Linked DNA regions of Homo sapiens: regions 2, 3, 4, 5 and 6 are each linked to region 1. Evidence: fine-mapped expression QTL. A gene starts in region 1. Each other region holds a variant in brackets. All regions are shown on one strand. Distances are between the middles of the regions.

What was found.
Region 2: its variant is fine-mapped to the expression of CTSH in skeletal muscle (FUSION, PIP 0.95).
Region 3: its variant is fine-mapped to the expression of CTSH in monocytes (Fairfax 2014, PIP 0.95).
Region 4: its variant is fine-mapped to the expression of CTSH in uterus (GTEx, PIP 0.99).
Region 5: its variant is fine-mapped to the expression of CTSH in testis (GTEx, PIP above 0.99).
Region 6: its variant is fine-mapped to the expression of CTSH in whole blood (TOPMed, PIP above 0.99).

The regions. Positions count from the first base shown.
Region 1 is chr15:78,942,855-78,948,036 of GRCh38, reverse strand. It overlaps CTSH (cathepsin H), which reads left to right and starts at 2,991. Exons shown (of 12, transcript NM_004390.5): 1 at 2,991-3,146. The coding sequence starts at 3,056. RefSeq lists silencers at 2,789-3,138, 3,576-3,870 and enhancers at 2,721-3,259, 3,260-3,798, 4,259-4,308, 4,739-4,788.
Region 2 is chr15:78,902,075-78,907,388 of GRCh38, reverse strand. No RefSeq gene overlaps it. Among named protein-coding and RNA genes, the nearest start is that of MORF4L1, 32 kb to the right of the region's middle. The variant TTTTTTA/A (reference allele first, on the strand shown) is at 2,030.
Region 3 is chr15:78,827,123-78,832,436 of GRCh38, reverse strand. It overlaps the pseudogene LOC390614. Among named protein-coding and RNA genes, the nearest start is that of ADAMTS7, 18 kb to the right of the region's middle. RefSeq lists an enhancer at 491-1,038 and a silencer at 1,226-1,445. The variant G/TTTG (reference allele first, on the strand shown) is at 2,771.
Region 4 is chr15:79,810,709-79,816,022 of GRCh38, reverse strand. No RefSeq gene overlaps it. Among named protein-coding and RNA genes, the nearest start is that of TRC-GCA5-1, 69 kb to the right of the region's middle. The variant C/T (reference allele first, on the strand shown) is at 2,323.
Region 5 is chr15:78,918,317-78,923,630 of GRCh38, reverse strand. It overlaps CTSH (cathepsin H), which reads left to right. Exons shown (of 12, transcript NM_004390.5): 11 at 513-638; 12 at 1,426-2,573. The coding sequence ends at 1,501. Among named protein-coding and RNA genes, the nearest start is that of CTSH, 24 kb to the left of the region's middle. The variant G/A (reference allele first, on the strand shown) is at 2,343.
Region 6 is chr15:78,986,837-78,992,150 of GRCh38, reverse strand. RASGRF1 (Ras protein specific guanine nucleotide releasing factor 1) reads left to right here. Exons shown (of 27, transcript NM_001145648.3): 21 at 357-460; 22 at 1,878-1,962. Among named protein-coding and RNA genes, the nearest start is that of CTSH, 44 kb to the right of the region's middle. The variant C/T (reference allele first, on the strand shown) is at 3,269.

The DNA of each region.
Region 1 (5,182 bases):
GAGCATCAGAAAAGCCCATGCATGGGGGGAGTCTCTATTCTGGTGCCATGCTCAGGGCCAGGTATTTTACCTATAATTATATTTAAACTGCATGACCGTATCTAACTACCCTGGAAAGCAGGGATACTTGCTCCATTTTACAGATGAGGAAACTGAGGCTGGTGGGGGGGAGGCGGGGGGGAACCATTTGCTTAGGTCACACAGTGAATCTGTAGTAGGGCTAGAACCAAACATTGGTCTCCAATTAACCAGGTCAGTGCCCTCCACATCTCAGCACCCAGGGGCCCTGGCCTGCTGGAACGATCCACAAAGGAGGGTCACCAGGGACCTAGCGCAGGAGGCAGCTCTGGGGCCTGAGGTCTAGCATGCAGAGCTTTCAATTCTGACATCCTCCAAGTGGCTGGGATGGGCAGAGGGGTGAAGCATTCCAGGTACACATGAAGGGCAGGACATCTGCCTAGAAGGACACCTTTATCCCAAGGCCAGCGACTTCTGTTCCAAATAGTAACCGAGCAGGGTCTTTTCTGAGACATATGCCTCAAAGCACAGAGAGACTGGTCACACCCAGAGAGGGGCATCCAGACAGAGATGGAGTCACAACCTAAGGAAGATCTGCTTTATCTGAAAAAAGGTGCCTGCTGGAGCTCACCCTGGTTCCATGGAGATTCCATGTCCACATGCCACACTGGCCACAGGAGAGGAGAGAGACTGTGGGGGAGGCTCTTTAAATGCAGATTTCTGAGCCCTACCCAGACCCAGTAGGTCATATCCCAGGAAAGAAGTCCAGGAATCTGCTTCCCCAGGTGCCTGAGACACAGAGTCTGGGCTAGAACATCAGGGGATGAAACACCAGTCGGAGGGAGGCCACGAGAGAGCTCAGATCTGGCTCTACTCACAGGTTGGAAAGATGCATTTTTAAAAAGAGAGGGAAGGGCACAGAGGCTCACATCTCTAATCCTAGCACTCTGGGAGGCTGAGGCAGGAGGATCACTTGAGCCCAGGAGTTTGAGACCCCATCTCTACTAAAAATACAAAAAAACTAGCTGGGCGTGATGGTACGAGCCTGTGGTCCCAGCTACTCAAAAGGCTGATGTGGGAGGATCTCCTGAGCCTGGGAGGCCAAGGCTGCAGTGAACTGTGATGATGCCACTGAACTCCAACCTGGGTGGCAAGAGAGCCAGGCCCTGTCTCAAAATAAATAAATAAAAATTTAAAAATGAAGAGACAGAGAAAGAGCAAGCCCAGAGCAGAGAGCACTGCAGTAGGTCAAGGCTGGGTTCAGACACTCTCTGCGCACAGACTGGGAAAGTTACCATCTACTCTTGTGGCCTCAGTTTCCTCATCTGTAAAATGGGGGGTCAACAACATGCCACTTTGCAAGGTGATGATGTAAGTGAAGAACAGGGCATCACTGGGCATTTGAGGCTACGGCACAGGCTGGTCTGAATCACCCTCTCCTCACCCAAAGCAGTGACAGCACCGGCCTCCTCAGCCTGGAACGCACGTTCTTCTGTCTGTCTCACACCCAGACCCTTACATACCATCTTCTTTAGCTTTGCAAACTACAGAGAATGGCCCTACAGCTCTTAATGTAGCTTCCTCAGCAGAAAGACTAAAATGTCTGTTGAGGGGGCAAAACAATTCACAAGGAGGTCGTCTAGCTTCTTCAGTTGTAAGTCCACTCCAAGCAAAAGGGAAGCCAGGGAAATGTGGTTAACCAGGGCAGGGAGACGTGGGGAGTGTGGGGGAAAGTCTGAGGTGGAGACACACAGGGACATGGGGGGTATGAGGTGGGGACAGGCAGGGAGATGGGGGTGCAAGGTGGAGACACGCAGGGACATGAGGGGGTGTGAGGTGGGGACAGGCAGGAAGATGGGAGGTGCAAGGCGGGGACAGGCAGGGACATAGGGGTGTGAGGTGGGGAAATGCAGGAAGATGGGGGGATGTGAGGTGGGGACTGGCAGGGATATGGGGGTGTGAGGTGGGGACAGGCAGAGACATGGGGGTGTGAGGTGGGGACAGGCAGGGACATAGGGGTATGGTGGGGATAGGCAGGGAGATGGGGGGTGCGAGGTGGGGACAGGAAGGGACATAAGGCTGTGAGGTGGAGACAGGCAGGGACATGGGGGGTGTGAGGTGGGGACAGGCAGGGAGATGGGGGGTGCGAGGTGGGGACAAGCAGGGACATGGGGAGTGCGAGGTGGGGACAGGCAGGGACGTGGGGCGTGCGAGGTGGGGACAGGCAGGGACATAAGGGTGTGAGGTGGAGACAGGCAGGGACATGGGGAGTCTGAGGTGGGGACAGGCAGGGAGATGGGGGGTGTGAGTTGGGGACAGGCAGGGAGATGGGGGGGTGCGAGGTGGGGATAAGCAGGGACATGGGGGTGCGAGGTGGGGACAGGCAGGGACATGGGGGTGGGAGGTGGGGACAGGCAGGGACATAGGGGGTGGGAGGTGGGCACATTCAGGGAGATGGGGGTGTGAGGTGGAGACAGGCAGGGACATAGGGGGAGCGAGGTGGGGACAGGCAGGGAGATGGAGGGTGCAAGGTGAAGACAGGCAGGGACATGGTGTGAGGTGGGGACAGGAAGGGACATGAGGGGTGCGAGTTGGGGATAGGCAGGGAGATGGGGGGGTGCGAGGTGGGGACACGCAGGGAGATGGGGGACGTGGGGATGGCGACAGGCTGGGAGAGGGAGAGGCCAGGCTGAGACCTCCCCGCGCGGTGCCAGCCAGTCCAGGCAGATCCAGGACTCAGCCAGGCCTGATACCCAGATAAGCCCTTCCTCCCAGAGGAGATAAGGGAGCGACGCGGCCGGCCGACAGGTGAACTAGAGCTGGCGAGTTAGTCGGCGCCGCCCCCTCCCGCGAGCCCGGCCTCGGGGGAGTACCGCCCACCCCGCCCCGCGCTCGCTCCGCCCCGCGCTCGCTCCGCCCCTTCGCGCTCCCGCCGCTCCTCCACGCTCGTGCCGCTCCCCCCCCGCGCTCCCAGTTGACGCTCTGGGCCGCCACCTCCGCGGACCCTGAGCGCAAGAGCCAAGCCGCCAGCGCTGCGATGTGGGCCACGCTGCCGCTGCTCTGCGCCGGGGCCTGGCTCCTGGGAGTCCCCGTCTGCGGTGCCGCCGAACTGTGCGTGAACTCCTTAGGTACGCAGAGGGCGCGCCGCCCGAGAGGGTGCTAGCAGGCCCTAGAGTGGACGCTGGGAGAACTTGGCCAGGGGCGCACTGGGCTCCGGAGGAACGGGGCAGAGCTTTCCCCGGTGAGAGGCCAGGAACTCTGCGTGCTGGCACGGGGAGGGGTAAACTGCATTATAGGCGGGGGTTCTCGGAGGGTGGGCGGCTTGTAGGACCAGAGGAGCAGATGGGCTGAGTGTCCAGGGTCCCACCTAGCCAGGTGGCTCTCCAGCCTAGAATACCAAAGGAGCCCGCAGCTCCTTCCGCCTTCCTCAACTGGGGACACAGAGTGTCACACAGAGGACTCTGATCTGTCCCTGCCAGAGGTGAGCAAGGACGTCCCAGCCTTCTCTAGCAGCTTCCCCCGGGACTTGGCACACAGGGGATCCCCGTAGTGTCTTGGGAGTCCCATCTGTAGAGTAGGTTGGACGGGCTGTTTGGAACAGTGAATCCCTGTGCAACGGCACCAGGGAAAGCACTCAGACCAACAGCGCTTTTAACAGCACCCCAGGGCCCATGGCGTCAGGTGGAGCCCCAGGACTCCTCTTGTTGGCCAGATTGGCTGCGACTGGTCCAGCTTCGTGCTGCCCTTGCATCCTGTCTACTGCCCGGGCTCAGGCACCTCCCCTGGCTGAAGGCAAGGAGCCTGCTCTTCCCTACTGCCTCCCTCCTTTCCTACTGTCCCTGGTCCCAGCCTCAGCCCACAGGCTCTGAACTTAAAGACCACCTGCCCCCTTCACCGAGAAAAGTAGCCAAGAAACAACCCAAGGAGCCAAGAACCTAGGGAGGGGGGGTGCCCTGAGCTCTGGAGGAACGGGACAGGGCTTTCCCCCAGCTAGAGGCTCAGGGGATGGGACAGAGATCACTGAGGCTGAATCTGGGCCAGAGGGTTGCCTCATTCCTTCCCACCTATTTATTTAAAAAGCTCCCCAGCCTTGCAAACCTCAGTGGGCGCCCAGCTCCAGGTCAGTTCCCGCCTAAGGAAAACCTAGCTGCCGCAAGCGAGGGCTGCCTGGAGAAGGCTGGCGCTGAGAGGCTGTCTGAATTCCAGAGCAGGGCTTGGCAAACTTTTTCTGTGAAAGACCAGACGGTAAATAACTTAGGCTTTATGGTGGTCTCTGTAGCAACTACTAACTCTGCCATGGTAGTGTGATAGCAACCATAGATTGTATGTAAGTGAGTCAGTGTAACTGGGTTCTAATAAATGATTTTTATGGCCACTGAAATTTCAGTTTCAAGGGATTTTTGGGTGCTACGAAATATGTTTCTTCTAACCATTTAAAATTGTAAGAAACCGTTTGTAGCCCAGGAGCTGTACTAAAACAGGAGTCAGGGACCGGCTGCGGTGGCTCACACCTGTAATCTCAGCAATTTGGGAGACCGAGGCAGTCGGATCACTTTAGGTCAGGAGTTCGAGAGCAGCCTGGCCAACATGGTGAAACCCTGTCTCTACTAAAAATACAAAAATTAGCTGGGTGTGGTAGCCAGGTGCCTGTAATCCCAGGTACTCAGGAGGCTGGGGCAGGAGAATCGCTTGAAACTGAGAGGTGGCGATCACTCCAGCCTGGGTGACAGAGTAAGACTCCATCTAAAACAAACAAACAAACAAACAGGGGAATACTGTACTTTCCTGAAACCTGCTGTAAATCCAGGCAAGGTATTATGGCACTTTTAAAGTCCTGACTAGATTGGAATGGATCTATTTTAGGGTAAGGCACGGTTCACCAGCAGATTATTCTGGCCCCAGAATAATCTCTCCAGAGGCAAACTGGTAGTCAATTGTCCTAAACTCAAACCCTGCCTCCAACTCTTGTCCTGAGTTGAGGTCTGTCTTCCTCTAAAGCCCTCAGCTGCAGCAGGGCCCTTAATCAAGATCTGGAATCCCCTGAAACCCTAAAGGGAGCCATGTTGAGGAAATGTGCATTTTCCCCAGGGAAAACGGCCATAGATTGGTCTCTGGAACAGGTTCGAGACCCAAAAACGGAGATCTAAATGCTGTGTGGTAGTGA
Region 2 (5,314 bases), 41 kb after region 1:
TCCATGTTTCCTTTGCTCTCAGCCAGCACCTCAGCTGTTTTTGGTTTTGGTCTTGTTTTGTCACCAGATAGGGTGACTTCAAAACTCATTCCTAAAAGAATGTGAAACCTCAGTGGTCTTGTGTTTTTTAACTTATGTACTTTTCTATTAAACTTTACCTAGGAACACAGAAGTACTAAGACATATCCCAGAGAATCCTCTGGGTTCCAGACATGGTCCTTTCTCTCCTCATTGTATATAGCAGCACCCAAATTTCTTCTTGGTAATCAGAGCCGATCATCTCAGCCAGTACAGTACTTCTCTTCTTTGCCTGTTGGCTCGGTGGTATGAGATGACCAAAATAGCTATCTAACTTCCAATCCAACTGACCCATCATGTTGCCTGGATGACAGAATTTCTCCTTGGGAACCAAAACCTCTATACCAACTGAACGCAAAGTTACAGGAATGGGAAGCACACATTCTGTAATTGGTTTGTGATAGTGAGAAGCCACTCCTATTAATTTCCAAACCTGTGCATTCCATGAGAGATCACCATCTATGGGCCATATTCACAGCATATACTGCATCCTTTAATTAAGAACCTCAACTTTTCAGGTCTCCCAACTGGCACCACAACTGACTCCTCAATAGCTCATTCCATTTTCTCAGGCTGATAGTGTATGCCAGAAGCAATGTTACACGGAATACCATGAATAAAGGTTTCTGGGTTCACGGATGATTGTGTTAGCAAAAGCATTAGACAGGGAAAGTATTAATATTATATTAATAAATCCAGATATCCAGAATGCATGTCTATTCCAGTGAGGAAAAACTGGCATCCCTTTGATGATGGAAGGGGTCCAACGTAATTAACCTGTCACCAAGTGGCTGGCTTGTAACCTCAGGAAATACACCATATCAGGGAATGGCAGATTTGGCAATCGCAATGGCAAGTAGCCAAGTGTTCAGGTCACCCACTACTACATAGCAAACCACTCCAAAACTTAGTAGCTTGGAACATTATTTATCTGACTCACAAGTCTGCCATTAGGGTAGGAGCTGGAGGGGACAGCTCATCTCTGTCCCATTCTGCATCAGCTGGGAGGGCTCAAAGACTGGGAGCTATAATCATCAGAAGGCTCACTCACGTCTGGCAATGAGACCCTAGCTGGGGACGTGGTTAAAACACCTACAATTCTTCTTACACGAGATGACACATGGAAGCCTTGTCTACCATGAATGCCCTTTGGTGAACTTTCATACAAGACACTAATATCTTCACTCTGGATCTAAAGAGGCCCATCTACATAACTCCTCCTCAGAAATCCTTGCATCAGTCTTCCATATTGTGTAAGGCAGGTCAATATTTGAAAAATTTGCGTGACTCAGTAAATATTTTCCAAATGACCAATGCAAAATCTTACAAAACCATGTATGAGCAAAATATCCATGCAAATACTAAATGATTCTAATCTAACAATTCTAATGTAACAATTTTTTTAAATTGTGATATGCTTTCACAGTCCACCTTGCAATGAACATTTAAGAAACAAACTGTAATCCCAGCACTCTGGGAAGCCGAGGCGGGCGGATCACGAGGTCAGGAGATCGAGACCATCCTGGTTAACTAAAAATACAAAAAAATTAGCTGGGCATGATGGCACGTGCCTGTAGTCTCCGCTACTTGGGAGGCTGAGGCAGGAGCATTGCTTAAACCCGGCAAGTGGAGGTTGCAGTGAGCCAAGACTGCACCACTGCATTCCAGCTTGGGTGACAGCGAGACTCCATCTCAAAAAACAAAATAACTTTTTCTCCAGTTTGGGTTTGCTGGTAAATTTTCTAACACATTTTTCGAGTTTTGTCTGAAAATGTTTTCTTGAAGGGTTTTTACTGAGTTTAGAATTTTAAATTGCAGTTTTGTTTCAGCTTTCTAAACATACTCCATTGCCTCCTGGCTTCCATTATTTGCATTGTCAAGTCTTTTTAATTGGGATGCCTTTAAAATTGCCTTTAGGTTTTAATTATATACGCTTTTTTTTTTTTTTTTT[TTTTTTA/A]AAGACGTCTTGGCTCTGTTATGCAGGCTGAAGTGCAGCCTTGAACTCCTGGGCTCAAGCAATCCTCCCACCTCTGCCTCCCAAAGTGCTAGGATTACACTAATTAAGCTGCAGTGCCTAGTCTTAATATCTTTAACTGGTTATTTTTGTCATGCTTAAAGTTAACACTTTATTAACAGTTCTGCAAAGTCATCAATCTCGATTATTGCCCCATTCGCTCCTGCAATAATTATATTTTCAGTTAGGTTTACCAATGCATTGTCTATCCTTAATGTCTCTGTCCCTCAATATGCGTATTTGTTTCCTGACCTATCTTCCCACTGTTAAACCTATTGAGTTCCTATTTTAGCTACTGTGTTTTGCATGTGGAATTCTGATATGCTTTTTAAAGTTTGCTGTTTAAGTTATCTCATCTCTCTAAATATAGTAAGCATACTTTTTTAAATGTCTTAAAATGTCAGTATCTGACTTTCCTTACTTAAGGAATGATGTAGAGCACTTTGTTGTTTTTGAGACAGGGTCTTACTCTGTTGCCCAGGTTGGAGTGCAGTGGTGCAATTTCAGCTCACTGCAACCTCCACCTCCTGAGCTCAAGTGATTCTCCCACCTCAGCCTCCAGAGTAGCTGGGGCCACAGGTGTGAGCCACCGTGCCCAGTTCATTTTTGTGTTTTTTTGTAAATGAGGTTTTGCCATGTTGCCCAGGCTGATCGTCAACTCCTAGGCTCAAGTGATCTTCCTGCCTCAGCCTCCCAAAGTGCTAAGATCATAGGCGTGAAACATTATACCCCACCAGCACTTACTTCTTAAAGTAAACTGGATCTACAACAGCCTATATCCTGTCTCTGTTTCTCAGATGAGTTTCTTGATGTTTTCTCCAAGTACTTCTATTTCTTTTTTGAGACAAGGTCTCTCTGTTGCTCGGGCTGGAGTGCAGTGAGGCAATCAGCTCACTGCAGCCTTCCTGGGCTCAAGCAATCCCCCCACATCAGCCTCCCAAGTAGTTGGGACTACAGGCACACACCACCACACCTGACTTCATGTAGTTTTGTCTCACGCAAAACTAGCTATTTGCTGCATATATTTGTAAAACTGTTTGAAGAAGTAATTAAATTTGGTTCATCTTTATTCCTGGGGTATATCCTTTTGGGGTCCTAATTTCTTGGCAGATATCAGACTCCAAATCATGTCCTTTAGTCCAAGTGAGACTATCAAAAGAACCAGACCAAAAGCCTCTCTGACCTTTGCAAACAACTGCAAAATAAAAGCCACACTGAATATGGACTTACAGCCCTGAAACTCAATTCTCTACCAAATGCTGGCCCATTAAGTCTTCGCCATTTTCTTAGGTCTCCAATGCCTTCAAGCAGATGTTTTATATCTCTGCTTATTTTCTTGTCTTCAGTGGAAGATTGCTCTGAATTATTTACAAAGTATGCCATTACTTTATGCTGGTCTTGGTTAAGTCTATTTTGTTCCCTTTTCTCACATTTTCAATTCTTTTTATATATTTTAAAGATACTTTGTATGCAGTATCTCTGTATTACCTAGATTGAAGGCAGGCAAAATTTTGGGGTTTTCAGTTTTAGTCTCTTCCTTTTTTTTTGCTCATTTATGCATTTAAGAGGAAACTGTATTTGGCTGGGTGTAGTGGCTCACACCTGTAATCCCAGCACTTTGGGAAGCCGAGGCAGGCAGATTACAAGGTCAGAAGCTGGAGACCAGCCTAGCCATTATGGTAAAACCCCATCTCTACGAAAAATACAAAAATTAGCCAGGAATAGTGGTGGGCACCTGTAGTCCCAGCTACTCAGAAGGCTGAGGCAGAAGAAGCCCTTCAACCCAGGAGGTGGAGGTTGCAGCGAGCCGAGATCGTGCCACTGCACAGCCTGGGCGACAGAGAGAGACTCCGTCTCAAAAAAAAAAACAAAAAAACAAAAAAAAACCAACCCACATATGTATATACCCTAGGAAATACGATATTTTTTTCATATACTGTATTATTGTTCTCCAACTTGTTTCTTCCATTCAACAGCATGTGAAAGCAAGCTTAGAAGCAAAAAGCAAAGGAGAACTGACTGAAACACAGCATGGTGATGTGAAGACTGGGGAAGCTTGTGGGCAAAGGATTACTCAGGTGCCGAGGCAAGAGACTGAAGGCACAAACGGTTTCAGTATAATGAAGAAAATAGCTAGAATAAGAATAGTTATAATACAAATTCGATACAGAGATTATCATGGACATTATCAGTCATTAGTATAAACATTATTAATCATTGGCTTTTAACATTACTCTTTATTGTACTACTAATATAATCAAGGAATAACCAGCAGGTATAGGGTCAGGTGCTGAAGGGACATTGTGAGAAGTAACCAAGGCGGCAAGAGGTAAGCCTTCTGTCACGCCTGCATAATGGCCAGTTGAGGGCTCCTTGGTCAAGCGGTAACGCCAGTGCCTGGGAAGGCACCCATTACTTAGCAGACCACGAAAGGGAGTCTCCCTTTCCTTGGAGGAGTCAGGGAACACTCTGCTCCACCAGCTTCCTGTGGGAGGCTGGATATTATCCAGGCCTGCCCACAGTCATCCAGAGGCCTAAACCCCTCCCTGTGGTGCTGTGCTTCAATGGTCACGCTCCTTGTCCACTTTCATGTTCCTCCCGTACCCCTAGTTCCTCTTGGAAGTTCTTAGAAGATAGCGGTAGAAGAAATAGTGAAAGTCTTAAAGTCTTTGATCTTTCTGATAAGTGCATAGAAGAAAATGCTGACGTATGCTGCCTTCCCTCTCTGCTTCGGCTACCTAAAAGGGAAGAGCCCCTGTCTTGTGATCACATGACTTGCTTGACCTTATCAATCACTTGGAGGGCTCACCTTCCTTACCCTGCCCCCTTGTCTTGCATGCAATAAATATCAGCACACCCAGTGGCCCCCCCCAGGCCCAGCTGTTTTCTCTTTATCTCTTTGTCTTGTGTCTTTATTTCTTACAATCTCTCGTCTCTGCACACGGGGAGAACACCCCCTAAGCCCCATGGGGCTGGACGCTACAGAAGCTGTGTTTAGCTTCAGAGTTTGTACCTTAACCTAACTTGCCCTTTACTCCCATGATTCAAAACACTATCATACAGGAAACCATTTGTTTTAAAGGAGAAAGGAGCATGATTATTTTAATCCAGAAAACTATTAAAATACATTCTCCACTGTAGACATTTAAGAGGCAGATGGGACAGACAAAAGTATTTGGTAATTCATAAGACTCAGGAATTTAATGGATATGTGTGTGGCTG
Region 3 (5,314 bases), 120 kb after region 1:
GCAATGAATGGAGCTCATACTGTTTGCGAAGGCTGTGCTAGGAGGATCAAAGTGCTAGACCTGGCAGAGTCCCCAGGATTCATCTCATCCCCAAACTTTTCAAATGGGGAAACTGAAGCCAGAGGAGATGGGACTCACCTTAGGATACACAGATTAATGGTGTACTCTCAATCTTAAGTAATCTCCACCAATGGACCAACCCTGACCTTCTGAGAGACCCCAGAATACCGGCCTTGACGTCGGACCCTGCTTCATGACGTCATCGCCCCAACCAGATATGAGCCACTTTACCCCATGCCCTTGATACTGACGCAGCGACAAGCGGCCCTCATTGGAAGAGTGCAGCCGCTGGGGCGCTGCCGTGGGAGCTTGCTCGGAGGGGCACCGGCCGCTGGGCTCAGCTACACAGCTCTCGAAGGCCCTGTCGGAAGTGGCGCCGCAGCAGGCAGTAAAGCAGCGGATTGAGGCTGTTGTTGCAGTGCGTCAGGCAGATGGAGACCGGGAAGAGGTAGGCCTGAGCCAGGAAGTAAGCGCGGTCCAAGGGCATGGCGTTCAGTTTGATCAGCACCCCTCAGAGTGTGAACGCTTGGCTGGGCAGCCAGCAGAGCACGAAGGCCAGTAGCACGCAGGCCAGCGCACAGGTGACTCGGGAACGCAGTCGGCGCCTGACCCTCGACGGCCAGCGTGCGCACCACAGTCGCAGGAAGCGCAGCAGCAGCGAACAGGTGCCCAGCGTGGCCAGCGGCAGCACGAAGGCTACTGCGATCTTCTGCAGGTGGTAGAGCACCTGCCATTTGGGGCCGCCGGCGGGGAAGCGCAGCAGGCACGAGTGCTTTCCCCCCACCCTAGCTGCCGTGGCGAACAGGGCGGTGGGCGCCGTAGCCAGGACGGCCATAGCCCAGAGCAGGCAGCACACACAGCTGGCCCGTGATGCGCCCCGATGGCTCGGAGGCAGCGCGCCAGTCACAATGCAATAGCGTGCCACGCTCATGGCACTGAGGAGGAAGATGCTGGCATACATGTTGAGCACGGTGAGCGTCAGCATCACCTTGCAGATGGCACCCCCGAAGGGCCAGCTAAAGTCGCGCGCCGTGTCCACGGCCCAAAAGGGCAGCGTTAGCACAAACTGCAGGTCAGTGGCTGCCAGATTGAGGAGGAAGCAATTGAGCAGCCAGTGGCGGCGCCACTGCTGGGACCTCACCCGGACTAGCACCAGCCGTTGCCCACCAGGCCTACAGCGCACAGGGCCCAGTAGGCGCCCGCAATCAGAGCCCGCAGCGCCGGCGCCCGGACGGCCCCCGCCACCCCGTCCAGGCCATGCAGGCTGCGGGGACTCCGGGCCGGGCTAGTGTTCTCTGATCCGTTGCCCAGGGAGCTGTTAGGGAGCAGCCCCCGACGCCTCTTCCGGCCAGCTGAAGGGAAGCACGGCCCAGACAGCTCGGGCGATTCGACCCTGCCTCTGGCGGATGCCATCGCCGTTGATGGCGATGCAGGGATCCGCTCAGATCCACTCCAACACCGGCAGCCGCTGGGAGAGAACTAGGGGGTCTGCAGTGCCTCGCGGCAGCACCTTTAAAAAACTGGGGAACCACCTGCTAGCCTGCGATTGGCCAGCTGCACCCGTGGCCCACCCCAAAGGCCTCCGAGCTGTTATTTCCAGTAGCTGCTTCTTCACCCTTGAATTAGCGTTGAACTGGGGACCCTTTGCGGGTGAACTGAGACGCGGGGGCCGGAAGCCCGAACCGGAGGAAACAGCGTCTGCAATTCACCCAAGGTGTGGGTCCGCAGCTGCCGGTTCCCGCCCGAGGACGCAGCTCCAGCTTCCCAGTGCCTCCCAGAGGGACTCTGATACTCGGGGGGCGCTGAAGGGAGGTCATATAAATTCTTCCCGTGGAGGCAGTGCGCCCCTCCACCTCCCCTGTGGGCCCCGAGATAGCCAACTGAAGACCAAGGAGGGGTGCCCAAGTCCGACCAGTGGGGCCTGGCAGCCCCCTGCCCGCCAGCCCTGCTTCCTTGAACCCCTGCTCCTGATAAGGCATTTCTCCTCCCCTGCTTTAGCCATGGGTACCCTTCATTCCCACCTTCACTGTGGTCTGCTCTGCAAGTATCCCTGATCTTCTTCCCAAGGTCAGCCGCACTGCTTACAACTGGGCTGAAGACGGAGAAGCAACTAATCTAGGAGCAGTCAGAGGAAGAGACATGCAAACAGGGTTTAAAAGACCAGTGCTGGGCCAGGCCCAAAGGCTGATGCCTGTAATCCTAGCACTTTGGGGGGCCAAGGCTGCAGATCACCTGAGGTCAGGAATTTGAGACCAGCCTGGCCAACATGGTAAAACCCCGTCTCTACCTAAAATACAAAAATTAGCTGGGCATGGTGGTGTGCGCCTGTAATCCCAGCTACTTGGGAGGCTGAGGCAGGAGAATCGCTTGAATCTGGGAGGCGGAGGTTGCAGTGAGCCGAGATGGCAGGCCTTTCCACTCCAGCCTGGGTGACAGAGCAAGACTCCATCTCAAGAAAAAAAAAAAGTCCAGTGTTGGGAGACTAAGACTGGGCCAGCACTCATGCTCAGCATGCACAGAGGAGGGGCCTAAAGCCTGGGGAATCCTGAAAGACTTCTTGGAGGAGGTGATTTTTGAGCTGATCCCAATCCTGCCTTGGCTTCCAATTCCAGTGACTTCCTCCTACAGTTAGAATAAAATCCAGATTTCCTGCTTTGGACTACAAGGCCTCATGACAGAGGCACCCACTACAGCTTTTTTTTTTTTTTTT[G/TTTG]ACACAGAGTCTTGCTCTGTTGCCCAGGCTGGAGTGCAGTGGCATGATCTCGGCTCACTGCAACCTCCGCCTCCTGGGTTCAAGTGATCCTTCTGCCTCAGCCTCCCGAGTAGCTGGGACTACAGGCGTGCGTCACCACACCCAGCTAATTTTTGTTTTTAGGAGAGATGGGGTTTCATTTTGTTGGCCAGACTGGTCTTGAATTCCTGACCTCAGCTGATCCACCCACTTCGGCCTCCCAAAGTGCTGGGTTTACAGGTGTGAGGCACCGTGCCCAGCCAGCCCTGGTATTTTTAAAAGTGCCTAGGCAATCCCACTGTATGCCAGGGTTGACAAGTCCTCTGTCTGTGGTCTCTCTGCCCACCTCCTAGACCTTGTCACCTACCACTCCGAGCCTTGCTCACTTCACTCCAGACACACAGGCCCTTCCCCAAATACACCACTCTGGCCTGCCTCAGGCCTTTGTCTTTGCTGTTCCCTCTGCCAAGAATGCCCTTCACCCAGATTACCATGTGGCTGCTCCTTCTCAGCACTCTGGCCTCAGCCCAAATATCACTTCCTAAGAAAAGACTTCCCTCTGCCACCACTCTGTTTACTTCCAAAAGCATTCATTGCATGCCCATTATGTGCCAACCACCTTGCTAAGCACGCAGGATGCAGCCTGCAGTGTGTCTTCTACTGGGGGATAAAGACAAACAAATAAATGAGATGAACTCATGGGGGAAAGAGTGACAATGAAACAAAGCAGGGTAACAAGACAGAGACTGAAGGGCAGGGCAGGAGACTCAAGGAAGGGGTATGAGTTTAGGGATGGGAGGGTTCCCAGGGGAGGAGGAGACCATGGTCCCCTTTATACCACTTACCAGGTATGTGTCTTGGGGATAACCAGTTTTTATTTTTCATATTTTATTTTATTTTTGAGATGGAGTCTTGCTCTGTCACCCAGGATGGAGTGCAGTGGCGGGATCTCAGCTCATTGCAATCTCTGCCTCCCAGGTTCAAGCAATTCTCATGCCTCAGCCTCCCAAGTAGCTGGGATTACACGTGCCTGCTACCACGCCTGGCTAATTTTTGTATTTTTTAGTAGAGTCAGGGTTTTGCCATGTTGTCCAGGCTAGTCTTGAACTCCTGACCTCAGGTGATCCACCCATCTCGGCCTCCCAAAGTGCTGGGATTACAGGTGTGAGCCATCACCTCCGGCCGGGGGTTAACTAATTAATCTTGCCTATCTGTAAAAGAAGATGCTGATAACCCCTCATCAGGGTCATAGGAGAATTAACCAGCCTCCAGAGAGAAAGCCTTCAGCTCTGTGCCTGGTGCGGAACTCTTCTTCTTGTGATTATTATTGAGAGGCTAGAGTGACCTCCCGTTTTGCTGAAGGCCCTCTCTGGACCTTCTCTGCCAACTTTAGTCTGGAGCTCCCACTGTATGTCAACCCTGGCATACTGTGCACTTACCTTTTCCTTCTTTCCTACCTCCATCAAGAACACAGGCACAGGCCGGGCTCACGCCTGTAATCCTAGCACTTTGGGAGGCCGAGGCGGGTGGATCATGAGGTCAGGAGATCGAGACCATCCTGGCTAACATGGTGAAACCCCGTCTCTACTAAAAAATACAAAAAATTAGCCGGGCATGGTGGCGGGCGCCTGTAGTCCCAGCTACTTGGGAGGCTGAGGCAGGAGAATGGCGTGAACCTGGGAGGCAGAGCTTGCAGTGAGCAAAGATCACGCCATTGCACTCCAGCCTGGGTGACAGAGTGAGACTCTGTCTCAAAAAAAAAAAAAAAAAGAACACAGGCACAACATGCCACCAGGAGCTGGGAGGTAGTCCCTAGAGGGCAGATCTCCCTCATGTCTCCTGCCCTCAATCAATCACCACCACCAGAGGCTCCCCATCACTCCCAGGCCTCTGCCTTGCTTGCCCAGGAGACAGGGAATCTGCAGTTAAGTGACATTCTCTCCCCAGCGGTTAGGAAAGGGGAGATTAACCTACTTACCAAGACATAGACTAGGCCAGAGCCTGGATGAACTGGGAATCTGATCGAAAGTTTGCAAAATTAGATCATGCTTTCCCAGGGTTTCCTTCCAGCAGGGCCTGATGCCTGGGACTTTTTCTTCCTTGAATGGAAGTTGTCACTGAATGTCAAGTGGCCTGGGTTCTAGTCTCTGTGCCCTAACACTCTGTGTAAAATGAAGTAACTGTCCCATTCTGGTCTGTTTTCTCATTTGTAAAATGAGACACCTTCTAATTCTAAGAGTGTTTTTAGAGACAAGGTCTTACTGTGTCACCCAGGCTGGAGTGCAATGGCCTGATCATAGCTCACTGCAGCTTCTTTGCATTGGCTGGGCATTTACTATGTGCCAGGCCCAGTGCCAGGCATTTTATAAGGATCATCTCATCTGGTCCCCATGACTGCTCTGTGAGACAAGGAATGTGATCCTGACTTACACAGGAGGAAGCAGGCTCAGAGAGGGGACTTGCCCAAAGGCCCACCCAGCAGGTGAACAGAAGCCTCCCTCTGAAGAGCCTGTCCAGTTTTCCCTG
Region 4 (5,314 bases), 870 kb before region 1:
AGTCCCCACCTTGCCATGCCTGGATTCCTTCCTTAATTTGACCCTTTGGAATCAGGGCACACCTTTGCCAGCAGGATACCATCCTTCGTTGCTGTGTGACAGTTTTGAATTTAGGGCAGATTCACCTAGAGCTGGCTATTCCACCATTGTGCCACCCACAGACACTTCCATCTCGCCCCCCTTGTCCTCCATGAGACTCAGCAGCTGGCACTGTGTCCCTGACCCAGATCATGTGTCTGGACACTGCCTGCCTCTTGTGGGTGCTGGTTCCATGGTGGCCCAGGAACCGTTGCTGCCAGCAGGGGCCCTCAGCCAGGGCCTGGCACGCTGTGCCCAAGCAGATGGTGCTGGAATGTGATGAGACTCCCTTTCAGGGCAGGGAGTGGAGAGAGGAGGGTTGGACACAGGACCTGGGTATTATTTGGAATCACTTTGTCACTGGAGATGTACCAGGTGCATCCTTAGAGCTCAAAGCAGTGACCGTGCTGCAGCCAGATGGCCTCTGAAGCTCCCAGCACAGATTTGCGTCTCCTGGCTGGGGAAGGAGGCAGGCTGAGGGGTGGAGAGGCCTAGAGGGTGGATGAAGGAGAGCCAGTGTGAGCATCTGGCCTTGTTCTCTCTCCCATCACTGTTACTCTTCTTTTAGTCCCTTCCTTCTCGCACTGTTACTTCAAACCCCTTTCTGTAAAATCATGCAACCAATGTTACTGAGTGCCGATTATGTTCCAGATCAGCTGTGCTTGGTTCTGGGGCTCCATGGCTCTGCCTTGTTGGAATTTCAGTCTAACAGGAGTGATGCTCTAGAGAGGGGCAGGTCATCACCAGACAAGTGTGAACTTTCCCTGTGACACACACTCTGAAGGAGCAGGACATGGTGTGGTGAAGGTCCATTATAGGGGGAGTGGACTAAGTCGGGGAGATGGAAGCAGGCTTCCTGGGGAGATGATGCCGATGCAGCCATCTGAAGGACGAGCGGGAGTTAACTGGGAGAAGAGAGGAGGAAGGGTGTGCAGGCTGGGAACAGAGGGTGCAGGGTCTATCGTTTGAGGGAGAAGCAAAGTTGAGGGAGTCAGGGAAGGCCAAGGTGGTGAAAGCGGAGAGATCCAGGGGGCCATGGTGAGAAGGGACTCTGCTGGCTTCTAGGATAAAATACAGGGTGTGCAGGGCCATGGGAGGCTCTTTCCTATTGTGGGCTGAGGGGATGCAGGTTTCCCAGTAGGAACAGGAGGAAAGGACATGGTGGTGATGGTGCCAACCGTCACCGTCATTAGACCATTAGCTGACACTTCCTGGTGCCTGCTGTGTGCCGGGCCCTGCTCTGAAGGCTTCAAGAATTCTCAGAAAGAAGGGAAAAGGGTAAGGGGCAGGGAAGACTTCCAAAGCCTTTCCGGGCTTTATTTGGAGTCAGCAAAAGGGAATACTAGCAACTTCACATACACACACACACAGACACACATACAAACACTCAGACACACACACACACACACACACACACACACACACACGGATACACAATTTCTCCATGCTAATTAACATGAGCACTTTATAAGTCAGTTTGGGTTGTCAAATGCCCGACATAAAGCAGATATGATTTAAGAGATTGGAAAGCCAAGATGATTTGAATGCCTTTTACCTACAATTTTTAAATACATTGGAAACCTAAAAACGATATTCTTTACGAGCAAATTAAATGTTATTTGTTTGTTTTTTAAAGAGGTAAGTCACATGGTGGGTTTAGAACAGGTGTCTTCAGAGATCAGAGTCATCGCTTCCTTTATTAGAAAGCAGAGGAGTCAGGAGACATGCCATTTAATGCTGTGCAGCACCAGAGTACTTTTCTTTCTCTGGAGTGGACTGCGTGCATCTTCCTAATGTTTGTGGCAGTCGTCTGATAATAGACTGCATTAGAAAATGTTACACTTTTATTTCAGAGCCAATGTTTTGAAGGGCTTTACAGGAAAGAAGTGGGTTCTTATCTCTGCCACATGACCTTGAGGAAAGGTGAAAATCTCTTTCCTGCTAAGAGTTGATGCATGATTTAGAATTCTAGGAGCAAAAAGTCATTCTGCCCATAGGAGTCTAGCTCACATCCCACTGTGGAAACTAATCTAACATGCAGTTTCCTCATCTGTAAGTGGGGACGACAATATTCTCTTTTAATAAGGTGGAGATTAAATAGAAGGATTCAGGTGAGAACATAGAGCATGTGGCAAGCTCAGTGAACGTGAGCTGTTGTCATTTACATGCACGTTGACATGGGAGCACATTCACAAACCCCTCCAGATGCATAGTCACAATGAAACACATGTGCATACATGCGCG[C/T]GTGCACACACACACACACACACACACACACTCAGAGGTTTGCTGAAATTCTCCAACAGAAAAGTAATTGTTGTTGTTTTTTTGCTTGTTGGATTGGGTTTGACTGGGGCCAGGGTGAGTTTGACTTAGAAGGTAAATGACCCCACCACTCAGCCTCCCCAACCAATGCCCAGCTATGCCCTTGGTGGCTTCCTGCTGACTCTCAGGTATCTTGGATCTCCAAGCCTGAGTGACCATATTACCCCCACAGGGATCAGAGCAGCCAGTCCAGGTGCTTAAGCCATCACTGGGACCTGCGCTGGCAGCCAAGAAGCTGAACATGGTGGCCAAGTGAGTAGAGGAGCTGTGCCCCTTCAGGCTACCTCCTGCCCGGGCCCCACCGCCTAGGGGAGCAGAGAGGACAACTGCCTGGTCAGCTTCACCTTTACTCACTCTGGCACCTCTGCCTGGAATACCCTCTCCACACCAACACTCAGGTCCAGCATCACCCACTCTCTTGGCCTGGCTCAGATGCCATTTCCCCCCGCAGGGCTCTTTGGATCCCCCTCCTCACCTCCTCTGAGCCTTTTTCTTTGGACCTCTCTTACAGAATTCAGCATGTCTACCATGTACTATGCCCATCAGATCTCCCAGAGTGTGGTCACCCCCAACACTCCACATGAAGCTGGGCTCAGAGAGCATTTGATGATCAGAGCTGCTCCAGGGATCCTGTTTCCACAAAGGCACTGTCCTGAATTTGAGTTTGATCAGGTCACTCCCTTGCTTTAAATGCTTCATTGGCCCCCTCAGCACTTAGGATAAAGTCCACTCTTTCTCATGCCTCTAGACTGTCTGGTTTGGTGCCTCCCTACTTCTCCAGCCTCATTTCCCCTCCCTCCCTCTCACCAGGCTCCAGCTCCCTTCACCAGTGCAGGGAGAGTGCCAAGCTCATTCTTGCCTCCAGGCCCTTGCACATGCTAAGTCATCTGCTCGGAGTTTCCTTCCCCTTCACCTCACCACCCCTACTCATCCTTCAGGTCTGAGCTCAAATGTCACTGAGAGATGTCTTCCCTGACATCCCTTCACCTTCGTCCACAGTTCAACTTACACTCACATGTACTTATCATTCATTATTATTTGGAATTGCTTATTTGCTTTCGTGATGGTTTAAGGCAGGCATCCCCACTGGAACTCCAGGAGGGCAGGGCAGATTCTGTCTTGGTCAGCACTGTATCTGCAGCACTTAGTACAAGGTTTACATAGAGCAGGAAAAAAATTATTTTTGTGAAGAGAGGCACAAATGCCATGAGGCCTGAAAGATCTCCCTTTTGGGCTCATCTTCCTCCTGAAATTGCCCTTTTTGCACGTCTTGTTTTGGAATCCAAGTCTGCCCTGAGTTTAGTTCCTTGGTTGTGAAACGTGGCTCTGCAGTGTCAATGATCCAACTTGAAGCAGCTGCTGCCAAGCCCGTGCTCCTGGCCCTCAGGTCTTGGATTCAGCAGGAACTGGCCACATTCCAAATACTGGCGTCTGCAGCTCTGGGCGCTTGTGTACAGCATATTGCAAGTGCTGAGAAACTAACCACCCACCAGATCCTGGCCAGGGCAGATGACGGTAACTCCATCATTTCCCTCAGGCAGGGGTAACATTGAGGAGTGTATTCCACACCACTGTCCACAGTGTTCTTCTGGGGTATGCTCCTGTCACCCATAACGGTGGCTGGTTTGACACGGCACTCTTTACTGGCTGACTTCTCTTCTTTGTCTTCTTCCGACTCCCCACCCCAAACAAACTACTTGGCCTTGAATCCTTATCACGGAGTCTACTTGTGGAAGAATGCAAACTAAGACAAGCACTGTTACTGCATCATACTCTACTGTTCCATTATTATGACTACACAATAAACACACTGGCAACATGCTTCTGCACATATTTGCTCATCAAATCCTCCCATGAACCCTATGGATTAAATATTCTTGTCTTTGTTTTGCAGAGAGGGAAATAGGGATACATCAGAGAGGTAAATCAATTTGCCTAGTGCTGACCGGTGAATCAGCTGGCGGCCTGGCCTGCTGCCCAGGGCACTTTCCTTTCCAACACCAGGACCCATAAGGCTGTGCATATGTGGCACCAAGTGGATAAGAGTGTGGAGACAGAGCTGGCAGGGAGGCCCAGGCTGTGAAGGGTGTCCTCATGCCCTGAGATAATCTACACTTAGAGAAGAGCATTCGGATGATCGGTCATGGACGGCCACACACATGTCCCTGGAGACTCATGCCTTCACACAAATGCCAGTGTGTGCACACTTGGACCCACATGTGCAGAAACCTGTTAGTGGCAATTTCAATTTCCTAATTAAAAACAAACAAGGTAGTCATGTTCTATCCAGCGTCCCACACTCGAGCTTATGGAATCCAAGGGCTTCCTCCGGTCATCTGGCCCAGCCACCTGCATCTGACCTGAACCAACATGGAATGGGGTCTTGTCAGCTAAGAAGCAGTGCTTAACCAGCCATTGAGTGAGCTGTTAGGGACCCTGGAATAATTACAGCCTTCTCAAATGAGAAGATGAAGAGGGGTTTTTTAGTGTGTGTGTGTGTGTGTGTGTGTGTGTGTGTGTTTTGATAGTTTGAGATTTAAAATTACATAGTAGAACTAATAGGCCCTTTCTGTCTCATAATTATGTTTGTCTTGATACAAACCCTTAAACGTTTGGCTGCTGGTCTTGGATGAAACTCCCAGCCTCAGATGGAATTGTAACGCCATGATGAGCCATTATGCTGTGGCCAAGGGTAGTCCCTCTGCGACACTTGCTGCCTGGCAGTGCTGTTGTTCTCAGCATGTACAACAAGGGCTCATATCAGAAGGAGGTTATATTTTCCATGGAGCTGTCACAGGGGCCCAAGGACTAGGAGGCAGGAGCTACTGGCTCAGGAATCCTTGGGAGTTAGATGGGACCTGGGACTCTGTCATTTCCCCCTTTGCTGGAAACACAGAGCTTTGAGAATGCTACA
Region 5 (5,314 bases), 24 kb after region 1:
AGATTCTCCTGACAGAAGCAGAAGAACCAAAAGAACTGAAAGGGCCGGGTGCGGTGGCTCACACCTGCAATCCCAGCACTTTGGGAGGCCGAGGTGGGTGGATCACCTGAGGTCAGGAGCTCGAGACCAACCTAGCCAACATGATGAAACCCTGTCTCTACCCAAAATACAAAAATTAGCTGGGTGTGGTGGTGCACGCCTGTAATCAGGCTACTCGGGAGTCTGAGGCAGGAGAATCGTTTGAACCCTGGAGGTGAAGGTTGCAGTGAGCAGAGATTGCACCATTGCACTCCAGCCTGGGCAACAGAGTGAGACTCCGTCTCAAAAGAAAAAAAGAACTGAAAGGAGTTCTCTCACGGAGACTAAATGTGATTACATCACCACCTTACATGCCTCCCTGGTCCGCTGTGGGGAACATTGCTCTAAAGCGCTCAAAGAGGCGTTGTTGGATGGGACTGTCATTGCTTTTATCCTTCCCATATGATCACCTCTTTTTGAATTTTGTTTTCCAGTACTTCCTGCCATAAAACTCCAGATAAAGTAAACCATGCAGTACTGGCTGTTGGGTATGGAGAAAAAAATGGGATCCCTTACTGGATCGTGAAAAACTCTTGGGGTCCCCAGTGGGGAATGAACGGGTAAGCAGCTCCCAGGTCCCACTTCTGGGAGGGGGATGTTGCTCAGGCCTGGAGGCCCTGGGGGCATCACTTCCACCTCAGAGTTACGGCTTCCACAGACGAGCTGGTCAGCCAAGCCCTAGGCCAGGCCAGGGGGAAAGGGAGCATGAGAATGTAGCCTCCACATTTCCAAGCCCCCATTTGCAGCCCTCACAGGGCCCCAGGTCTTTAGGACGCTGCAGGGAGAGCAGGAGGCCAGCTGGCTCAGAAGGACTGCTAGGAAAACAGCTCAGAACTTGGAACTCTGCTGGCACGAAATCAGTGTCTGGGAGGGTCCGTCTTTGAGAAATCAAAGCAACAAATGTACCCCTGATCACTGACAGCCCCTCCTTCCGGGAGAAAAGGCTGGCATGGGGCGGCCTGGGTGTATATGCTGCTGTGCCTTTGTCCTGTCCTCCCAGATTCCATGTCCTTGTCTGAAAAGGAGAGCTTTCCTGTTCCCTCGGGCTCCTGGTGATAAAATAGCTGTGTGAGGGCCCGGCCAGGGCTAAGAGGGGGCCCTCGGTAAATTTTCGGGAGAAGTGGGATATGGATCATTCATTTGGCAGCTAAGGAGAGGGAAGAATGAATTCTTCACAAAGTCAGGTCCGTGATTTGCCGGTGATCAAATAAGCCGAATGCTACTGTTTTATGAATAAATTTAGAGGGTCTCACCCCTGAAGTCAGCTCTTGGTGAGCAGCAAAACATTCTAGAAAGGCCTGTGGTGGGGAGACCGCCGGCCGGGCCTCAGCTCCTCTTTCTGCCCAGGTACTTCCTCATCGAGCGCGGAAAGAACATGTGTGGCCTGGCTGCCTGCGCCTCCTACCCCATCCCTCTGGTGTGAGCCGTGGCAGCCGCAGCGCAGACTGGCGGAGAAGGAGAGGAACGGGCAGCCTGGGCCTGGGTGGAAATCCTGCCCTGGAGGAAGTTGTGGGGAGATCCACTGGGACCCCCAACATTCTGCCCTCACCTCTGTGCCCAGCCTGGAAACCTACAGACAAGGAGGAGTTCCACCATGAGCTCACCCGTGTCTATGACGCAAAGATCACCAGCCATGTGCCTTAGTGTCCTTCTTAACAGACTCAAACCACATGGACCACGAATATTCTTTCTGTCCAGAAGGGCTACTTTCCACATATAGAGCTCCAGGGACTGTCTTTTCTGTATTCGCTGTTCAATAAACATTGAGTGAGCACCTCCCCAGATGGAGCATGCTGGTCCTGGGCCATGACTCAAACCAGGTCTGTCCTCGCCACTCAGTCTCCCAGGAGGGAGGCATCAGGGGGTGTCCAGGCTCTGGCTGGGAGGATGGTGGGGGTGCTGGCGGTATTATCCACCAGATGGGGTATCCAGGATGAAGAGCAGGCTTAATTTGAGATCTTGACTATTTGTCCCAAACCTGAGTGGAGAGGTGGGGAGGAAGGAGAAAAACGGGCCAAGCTGCGGCAGAGGCAGGATTCAAACCCACAATGTCAGCCCAGAAGCCTGTACTTCTCTGTGTGGCCTCCCCAGTCTCAGCTGCCTACTCCTACTCAGACTCTGCCCCCCACCTCCACATGAGACTGCCCACCCCTTCCTCACCAACCCCTTATTTATTTCAAACGTGCCCAGATGCTCCTGTCGTTTCCACACCATCCCTTCCCTTATCTTGCCTTTTGAGAAATCTTGATCTCTGTTTAGAGGGC[G/A]GCCATGAAGTTGCTGCTGCTTCCTGAAGCCTCCGGGCTCTGGGATGTCTGTAGAACAAGCTGGAGTCCACCAGCTCTTTGTCCTATGGCTCACAGACTTTCTTAATGATAAAAGCTGTCATCTTATTTGGGCTTCCTGAAAAGCTAAAGGCTTGAGAATATTTGAAAAATATATATGTTCATGATAAGGCTTATTTAGATAATGCAAATATAGTTTAATTTATTAGAAAATTCTAGTAACATAAGACCACAACTGTATAAGACAAAAAACAATCACCTTGCTAGGCATGGTGGCTCACGCCTATAATCCCAGCACTTTGGGAGGCCGAGGCAGGTGGATCACCTGAGGTCAGGAGTTTGAGACTAGCCTGGCCAACATGGTGAAACCCCGTCTCTAATAAAAATACAAAAAAAAAAATTTAGCCAGGAGTGGTAGTGCACACCTGTAGTCCCAGCTACTCGGGAGGGTGAGGCAAGAGAATCGCTTAAGCCTGGGAGATGGAGGTTGCAGTGAGCTGAGATCATGCCACTGCACTCCAGCCTCAAAAAAAAAATAATAATAATAATAGACTTCATTGGATGGAATTCTATTCTAGATTTAAAAAAAAACTAACATGAAATGAAAGCATAATTTCTTTTTCTTTCTTTTTTTTTTTTTTTTTTTAGATGTAGTCTCACTCTGTCACCCAGGCTGGAGTGCAGTGGTGTGATCTCAGCTCACTGCAACCTCCACCTCCCCAGTTCAAGCGATTCTCCTGCCTCAGCCTCCTGAATAGCTGGGATTACAGGCATGCACCACCACTCCTGGCTAATTTATGTATTTTTAGTAGAGATGGGGTCTCACCATGTTGGTCAAGCTGGTCTCGAACTCCTGACCTCAAGTGATCCCAAAGTGCTGGGATTACAGGAGTGTGAGCAACCGCACCCAGCCTGAAAGCATAATTTCTGAATTTGACAAAGATTCTCAAATCAATGGTCAGTTGTATAAAAGGATTCCCATTGAAGTCAGTGGTATAAAAGGATTCCCATTGAAGATACATGGCAAATAAGTCTAAGGGTACCATTCTTGCTTACATCTATCTGGAAGATCTGGCTGCTGTGATAAATAAACCCAATTAATATTTGCAGACAGCATGATAATGTGGCTAAAAACATTCAGGAGAATCAACAAAACTTAGAACTAATGAAAGAGTTCTGAAAGTGGCTGGATACCAGAAAAAAAAATCAAAAACTCAGAAAAAATACACTATTTTTTGTTACTATTGCAACTTTACTATTGCAACAAAACCAGCAGCTAGGAATAACCACCAAAAAGTCTTATATGAAGAAAATTACTAAATTAATAACACTATAAAGGAAGACTTAGATAAATGGAGAGCCACCATATTCTTTTGTTGTTGTTGTTGAGACAGAGTCTCACACTGTTGCCCGGGCTGGAGTGCAATGGCATGATCTTGGCTCACTGCAACCTCCGCCTCCCGGGTTCACGTGATTCTCCTGCCTCAGCCACCCGAGTAGCTGGGATTACAGGTGCCCACCACCACACCTGGCTAGTGTTTTGTATTTTTAGTAGAGACGAGGTTTCACTATGTTGGCAGATTGGTCTCAAACTCCTGACCTCATGATCCACCTGCCTCGACCTCCCAAGGTGCTGGGATGACATGCATGAGCCACCATGCCCGGCCGAGGCACACCATATTCTTGAATGGAAAGATTAGCATAAATAAGTTGATTATTGCCAGAAATAAAAGTACAGATGGTATATTTCCAACTAAAATCCCAATAAAATTCTGTTATCCTTTTTATCTGGGGGAAAAAAGGCCAAGGTAGTTTTATAAATGAGCAATGAGGGTGGATTTTTTTCACATATTAAAATTTACAAAATGTTAACCCTTAAAACAGTGTGCCAATTAAGAATAGATTACTCACTCAGGTCTAGGAAGTAAGAATTCGATACATCCGTCACAGACGAGTCCATTTTCACCATTCAATTAAAGGTGCTAGAAGCTGGGTGCGGTGGCTCACGCCTGTAATCCCAGCACTTTGGGAGGCTAAGGCAGATGGATCACGAGGTCAGGAGTTCAAGACCAGCCTGGCCAACATAGTGAAATCCTGTCTCTACTAGAAATACAAAAATTAGCCGGGCATGGTGGCGGATGCCTATAATCCCAGCTACTCGAGAGGCTGAGGCAGGAGAATCACTTGAACCCGGCAGGCAGAGGTTGCAGTGAGTGGAGATCGCACCCCTGCACTCCAACCTGGGTGACAGAGCGAGACTCCGTCTCAAAAAAAAAATAGTGCTAGAAATTGAACAGTAGGTTGGAAAAACAATGTAACCTAAATCCTCACCCAGCTCTATATTGTTTTTAAAGTGAACATTTTCTTTTCTAACGGGTTTAGATATAGAATGACTGTGGAGACAGAGGAGAATTCTTGCACACCCACACCCAGATCTCTCTGCGATGAATGTAGTAGTTTGATACAAATGTCACAATTAATGATCCAATATAGAACATTATTAACCACATTCCAATTAAATACTCATTTAAAGGGAGGGTCCTGGGTGAGGTTCCAAAGAAATTCAAATTACCACAAAAATCAAATAACTGTTTTCAAAATTAGCCTCCCCTGAGGGATTTAGGTGCTCCGCAGGGATTGTGGGCTTGGGCTGGAACACAGACCTGAGACTTTGAAGCAGAGTTCTCCTTTCCATAAGAGCCCCGAATGTCTCAAACCCAGACAATGATGAGAGTCTTTTATTATAAAAAGGCCTGCAGGCCTGGTGTGGTGGCTCACGGCTTATAATCCCAGCACTTTGGGAGGCCAAGGTGGGCAGATCACCTGAGGTCAGGAGTTCGAGACCAGCATGGTGAAACCCTGTCTCTACTAAAAACACAAAAAAATTACCTTGGCGTGGTGGCACGCACCTGTAGTCCCAGCTACTTGGGAGGCTGAGGCAGGAGAATCGCTTG
Region 6 (5,314 bases), 44 kb before region 1:
CCAGTCCTAGTCAGCCCACTTCCAGCTTAGCAACTTGGGCCAGTGGCTCACCTCTGGAAGCCTCCATTGTCTCATGCACGTGCTGGGAGCTCCCTGGCAGGGTGGGTGAGGGCAGTCCGAGCACTGGGCTGCACACACCGGCACAACAGGGCGGGGCCCATCTCCCTCCGTCCCCTTCCCTCCACCTCCCCTCATCATACTCCATCCACCCTCTCATCAGATTCGAGGCAGCGTCATACCCCGTCCACCCGCCCACCCAATTCGAGGGCGAGATACCCCCACAGAGGCAGCTGGGAATCCAGGAGGTGTCCGTCATGGGCCTAACTCAAAATGTTGCTCCCCCAACTCAAAACCAGGCTGAAGGCGTGAAGGCTGAGCCCTTTGAAAACCACTCAGCCCTGGAGATCGCGGAGCAGCTGACCCTGCTAGATCACCTCGTCTTCAAGAAGATTCCTTATGAGTAAGTGTTGCAGGCACCACCCGCCTCCCCCCGCTTCCTCAGGCACTGTCTTGGACAGCACCCTGGAAGCACACGCAGTGAATTTCCAGAGCTGCACGGACCCTCCACAGCTTGAAACAATAGTGCCTGGGTCAGCAGAATGAGGGAGAGAAGCCTGTTCCCGTTCCTGCCCACCAAATTCTCTCCTTACCTGTCAGCTGCACACACACACTTTTCTGGAATCATCTCTAACTCAGAGCTCCTAGAAAGAGAGTATCTAGAAAAGAGCATGTGTTCATGTGTGTGTGCACATGTACCTGTGAGAAACTGTGCACACAGGCAAGAGCGTGGGCACGTGTGTAGGTCCAGTGACCTCCAGTAGCTGATTTAGGGGACAGGCGTGGACTTTGAAGAAGCCCCAAGGCCTGCTGTTACCTGTTCTGGCCTCAGTCATCCCTGGTGTTCACTGCAATTATTCTACTTATGTAATTTTCTATCCCTCTTCCTTCATCTGATGCTATGCCAAAAGGGCATTTGTAAACACTATTTTTAATAAGTACACAGCATTCTCTAACAGTGTGTTACTAAGCCACGAGAGTGTTTTCAGCCTTCACTTTTATATTTATCCCTGCGGTAAACATCCTTGCAACAAATATGTCTGAATTCCTAACAATGGTCCCAGAATGGTTTCCCAGAATTGGGCTCACCGGATTTGAATCATTGTGGGGCTTTTGGCCTCAGCCCCACCTGGCACTCTCGCAGCCCTCCCCAGCATGGGTGCTGCCTCGTGTAAATAGAGAGGGTCGGCACTTTGGAAACCTGTCACATCTCCTGGACATAGAAACAGATGATATTCCTGATATGTCCCTCTAGGAGGAGAAGCGGGATGTGTTTTCAAACACAAATCACCTCCCCGGCCCCTTCTGCCCACAGGACTCTGCCGAGGTCCCCTCTCCCTGTCACTTTATGATGTCAGGAGCCTGTGGCTTGGCTTGCAGGCTTTTTAAGCCTTTTATCTGCCCCCTTTTAGGGCCTTCTATTCCCTCATCCTACAGACCAGCTGCTGCAGTGACTAAAATGTGAATTCTCCCTGTCAGAAAACAAGATTCATAACAAATTATTTCCACCATGTGTGCCTTCCCACACCTTATTTCAGCCTCCCAGTAAACCTGTGAGGAAAGGATTGTCTTGATTCCCATTTTACAGATAAGGAAACTGAAGCCCTGAGCTATAAAGGGTTTGTCTGGGGCCACACAGCTGCGACAAGGCAGAGCTGGACTTGAGCCCAAGGTTCCTTCCTTCCAGGGCTCTGCAGAAGGTTGTTCCCCCAGAAATGACAGCCTCAAAAAGCCAAAAAATAAAATAAAAAGCATGGAGCAATGAAATCAGCAAGGCAAACCTCACCCCCTCCACCTGGGTCTCCCCTTACTTCCTACAGGGAGTTCTTCGGACAAGGATGGATGAAACTGGAAAAGAATGAAAGGACCCCTTATATCATGAAAACCACTAAGCACTTCAATGACGTGAGTATGGATGGGAGCGCCTCTCTCACTGGGGTTTTTCTTTGGCAAGACGCTCAAGAGGCTGGGTAGAGAACGGGCTATACACCTGGCTGGAACCAGACTCCTGGGTCCTCTCCAGCCCTGCCACCCCTTGCCATGTGGCCTCGGGCTGGTTGCCTCACCTCAGTCTCAGTCTCTTCTCCTATTAAGTGGGGCTGACCATGGAACAGTCATAGGAGGATTAACTGCGTGGTCATCTAAAGACATTCAGCCCAGCATTGGCTCGCTGTGAGCCCTCACCCAGAACTTGTGATTCCTAAGTGGGGGTTACTCCTCGGAGCAGGGTTTTTGCGGAGTCTGTGGCAAAGAGAACAGAAGGGAATGAAGGATTAGAAGGAAAGGAATGAAGACCTTGCTATGCTTCCTATTTTTAAACCTCATCTCAGTATTAGCAACAAGCAATATTTGGCTGGACAATGGCAGACAGCTTCCCTCTAATTCATACATTATCCAGAACCCTCGGAATCTCCTAAGGTTTTGGCTGTTTCAGCTACTCTGGCAATGATGTCCCACTCGCTGCCCCTCTTCTTGCCTTTCTTGTGGTAAGATGGTCTTTTGGGATAACACTAAAGAGAATGTTTAATTCTCTTTAATGTTAGGAGGCCACAGTGCTGAGCGAATGTTTAATTAAACATTCTCTTTAATGTTAGAAGGCCACAGTGCTGAGCGAATGTTTAATTAAACATTCTCTTTAATGTTAGGAGGCCACAGTGCTGGGCGAGACTAAGGCTCCTGAATCTCCCTGGCTAGGATCAGGATGGCCCAATATCCAGCTCCTCCAGCCCCCTTCTCTAGACCTCCCAGCCCCAGCTTTCCTGGGGAAGAACTGTTGAGATGGGACCAAGCACTGGACCTGCAAACTGGCCTGGCATAAGCAGCTCAAAGGGCCTGGACTGACTCTGATTGGCACACTAAGTTCAGATGGGTGCATCACACACCCCCAGCTCCCAGAATCCCTCCTCAGAGAAACATGGGAGCAGCAGAGAACTGGGGGGCAGACAGGTCCCAGAGCCTTCTGAGGCACAATTCACATCCACAGGGAGCATTTGCAATGTTCTTTAATAAGAATATCCACTGCCCCCTAACCGGGTGCCTACCTTGTGCCTAGCACTGAGCTTTTTGTGCATAGTAATCTCATTGAAAGCTCACATCAACTAAAAGATGGGGGCTGTCCTCACATTTTTAGGTACAAAGAAACCAAGACTCTGGAAGGGCAAATGCTGAGGTCTCCTAACTGGTGTGTGGTAGCTCATGGCTTCCATTGCTA[C/T]ACAGTGCAAATCAGCTGTGTGAGGAAAAAAAAAAAAAAAAAACTCCCTCCCAGCAACTTCCCCACATGTGTGCAAGTTCCAACCCCTGAACCACAGAGCCGGGTCCACTCCCAGCCTCGTGACAGCCCTGAGAACAGTTGCACTCAGCATCCTCATTCTTCTGAGTTTAATCATCAACACGAGGAAAGAGCCTTTGAGGGCCGGTGGTGGGAGCACATGATTCCACTTGCCCTGACCACCTTGGCCAGGGCCACATCCTACCAACCCCAGCCGCCAGCACACCATATCCTGGGAGGATCCTCAGCAGCCTAGAAGAAACAAGAAAGACCCAGAGATTGCAGCTCAGGGGAGGAGCCCTTTGGGGCCTCCTAGGCCTGGGCACCCAGTGGTTCCTGCAGTGAGCACAGCAGCAGAAAGGAGACTCGTGTGCCTCTCAGGAGAGAAAGAGGGACAGAGACCAAGCCTCGGGAAACATAACCTGACAGAGGCCTGATCCAACCACACCTTACAGCACCAGGCAACAAATCACTGTCCCCTCCCTTCCCTGTCCCACTGTGTGCCCAGGAGTCGAGCAAGTGAAAGACAAGAATATGAAGTGAGCATTCACTGAGTGTTCACCCCATGCTAGACGCTGTGCTTCAAAAGCATCATCTCATTTAATCCTGCCATGCCCACTTTGTGGATGAAGAAACTGAGGCTTGAGGAGGGGAAATTTCATCCCCAACATTACACAGCAGAGTACAATTTTGAACGCACACGGTCTACTTCAGAAGCTGCCCTTGTAACGACCTGGCATTTGGCCATCTCTGTTCAAATCCACCATTTGGTTCTGATACACAGGATGTGTGCTGGCACAACAATGATTTTCCTCGTCTCTCCCTGGCACAGTTCTATTTGCTGTTTTCTGGTCCTTTTGCCTTTAATTTCTTTGTCCTCTTAACTGGTACTGGCCAGGATCTTCAGGACCATGGCCAAGCTGGGGTACTGGTGTAAGGCAAGCAAGGTTCCCAGAGAGCAAAATCGAAGGAGCTACTCGCCCTTCTGCACTTGTACCCCACACCTCAACTGCCTCACCCTAGTCCCGTCTCTCTCCACAACAGCATGGAATGGACATGGTGATCATGTGTCTCCTTCTTGGGTTTTTTGTGGGGTTTTTTGGTTTTTTTTGTTTTGTTTTGTTTTGTTTAAGACACAGTCTCCCTCTGTCGCCCAGGCTGGAGTGCAGTAGTACAATCTCAGCTCACTGCAACCTCCACCTCCTGGGTTCAAGTGATTATCATGCCTCAGCCTCCTGAGTAGCTGGGATTACAGGTGCATGCCACTGCACCCAGGTAATTTTTGTATTTTTAGTAGAGACAGGGTTTCACCATGTTGCCCAGGCTGGTCTCAAACTCCGGACCTCAGGTGATCCACCCGCCTCAGCTCCCAAAGTACTGGAATTACAGGTGTGAGCCACTGCACTCGGCCACCTTCTTGGTTTTAAAGGAGATATTTCTAATATTTCCCCATGTGGAATGATGTTTGCTCCTTTACCAGGTTTTTTTTTTTAATTATCTTTTATTCCTTGGGTGCTAATGGATTTAACCATGAATAAATACAGAATTTTATCAAATATTTCTTTCTGCATCCATAGAGATGGTCATATGGTTTTTCTCCCTTGCTCTGTTGATATAGTAAATGACAATTATACTTTTTTTCTAATATTCAATCATCCTTGCATTCCAGGGACAAACCCAATGTGGTCATGGTATATTAAACAAATGGGTGTGTAATTTTCCTTTCTTATATTATCCATCTCTGGTCTCAGTATCAAGGTAATACTGGCTTCATAGAATAAACTGGAAGATATTCCTTTTATCCTTCTTCTCTGGAAGATTTGACTGATCTATTTCTTTCAAAAATTAGTATAACTTTTATATAAAATTCTTTTTAAGTTCCATGTTCTCTTGATGGAAAAAAATTTTAACTACTACTTCAATTTAATTAAGAGGTATAATACATGTACTACTTTGTGTTATTATCCTTCCTGATTCTCTTAAGTAGTA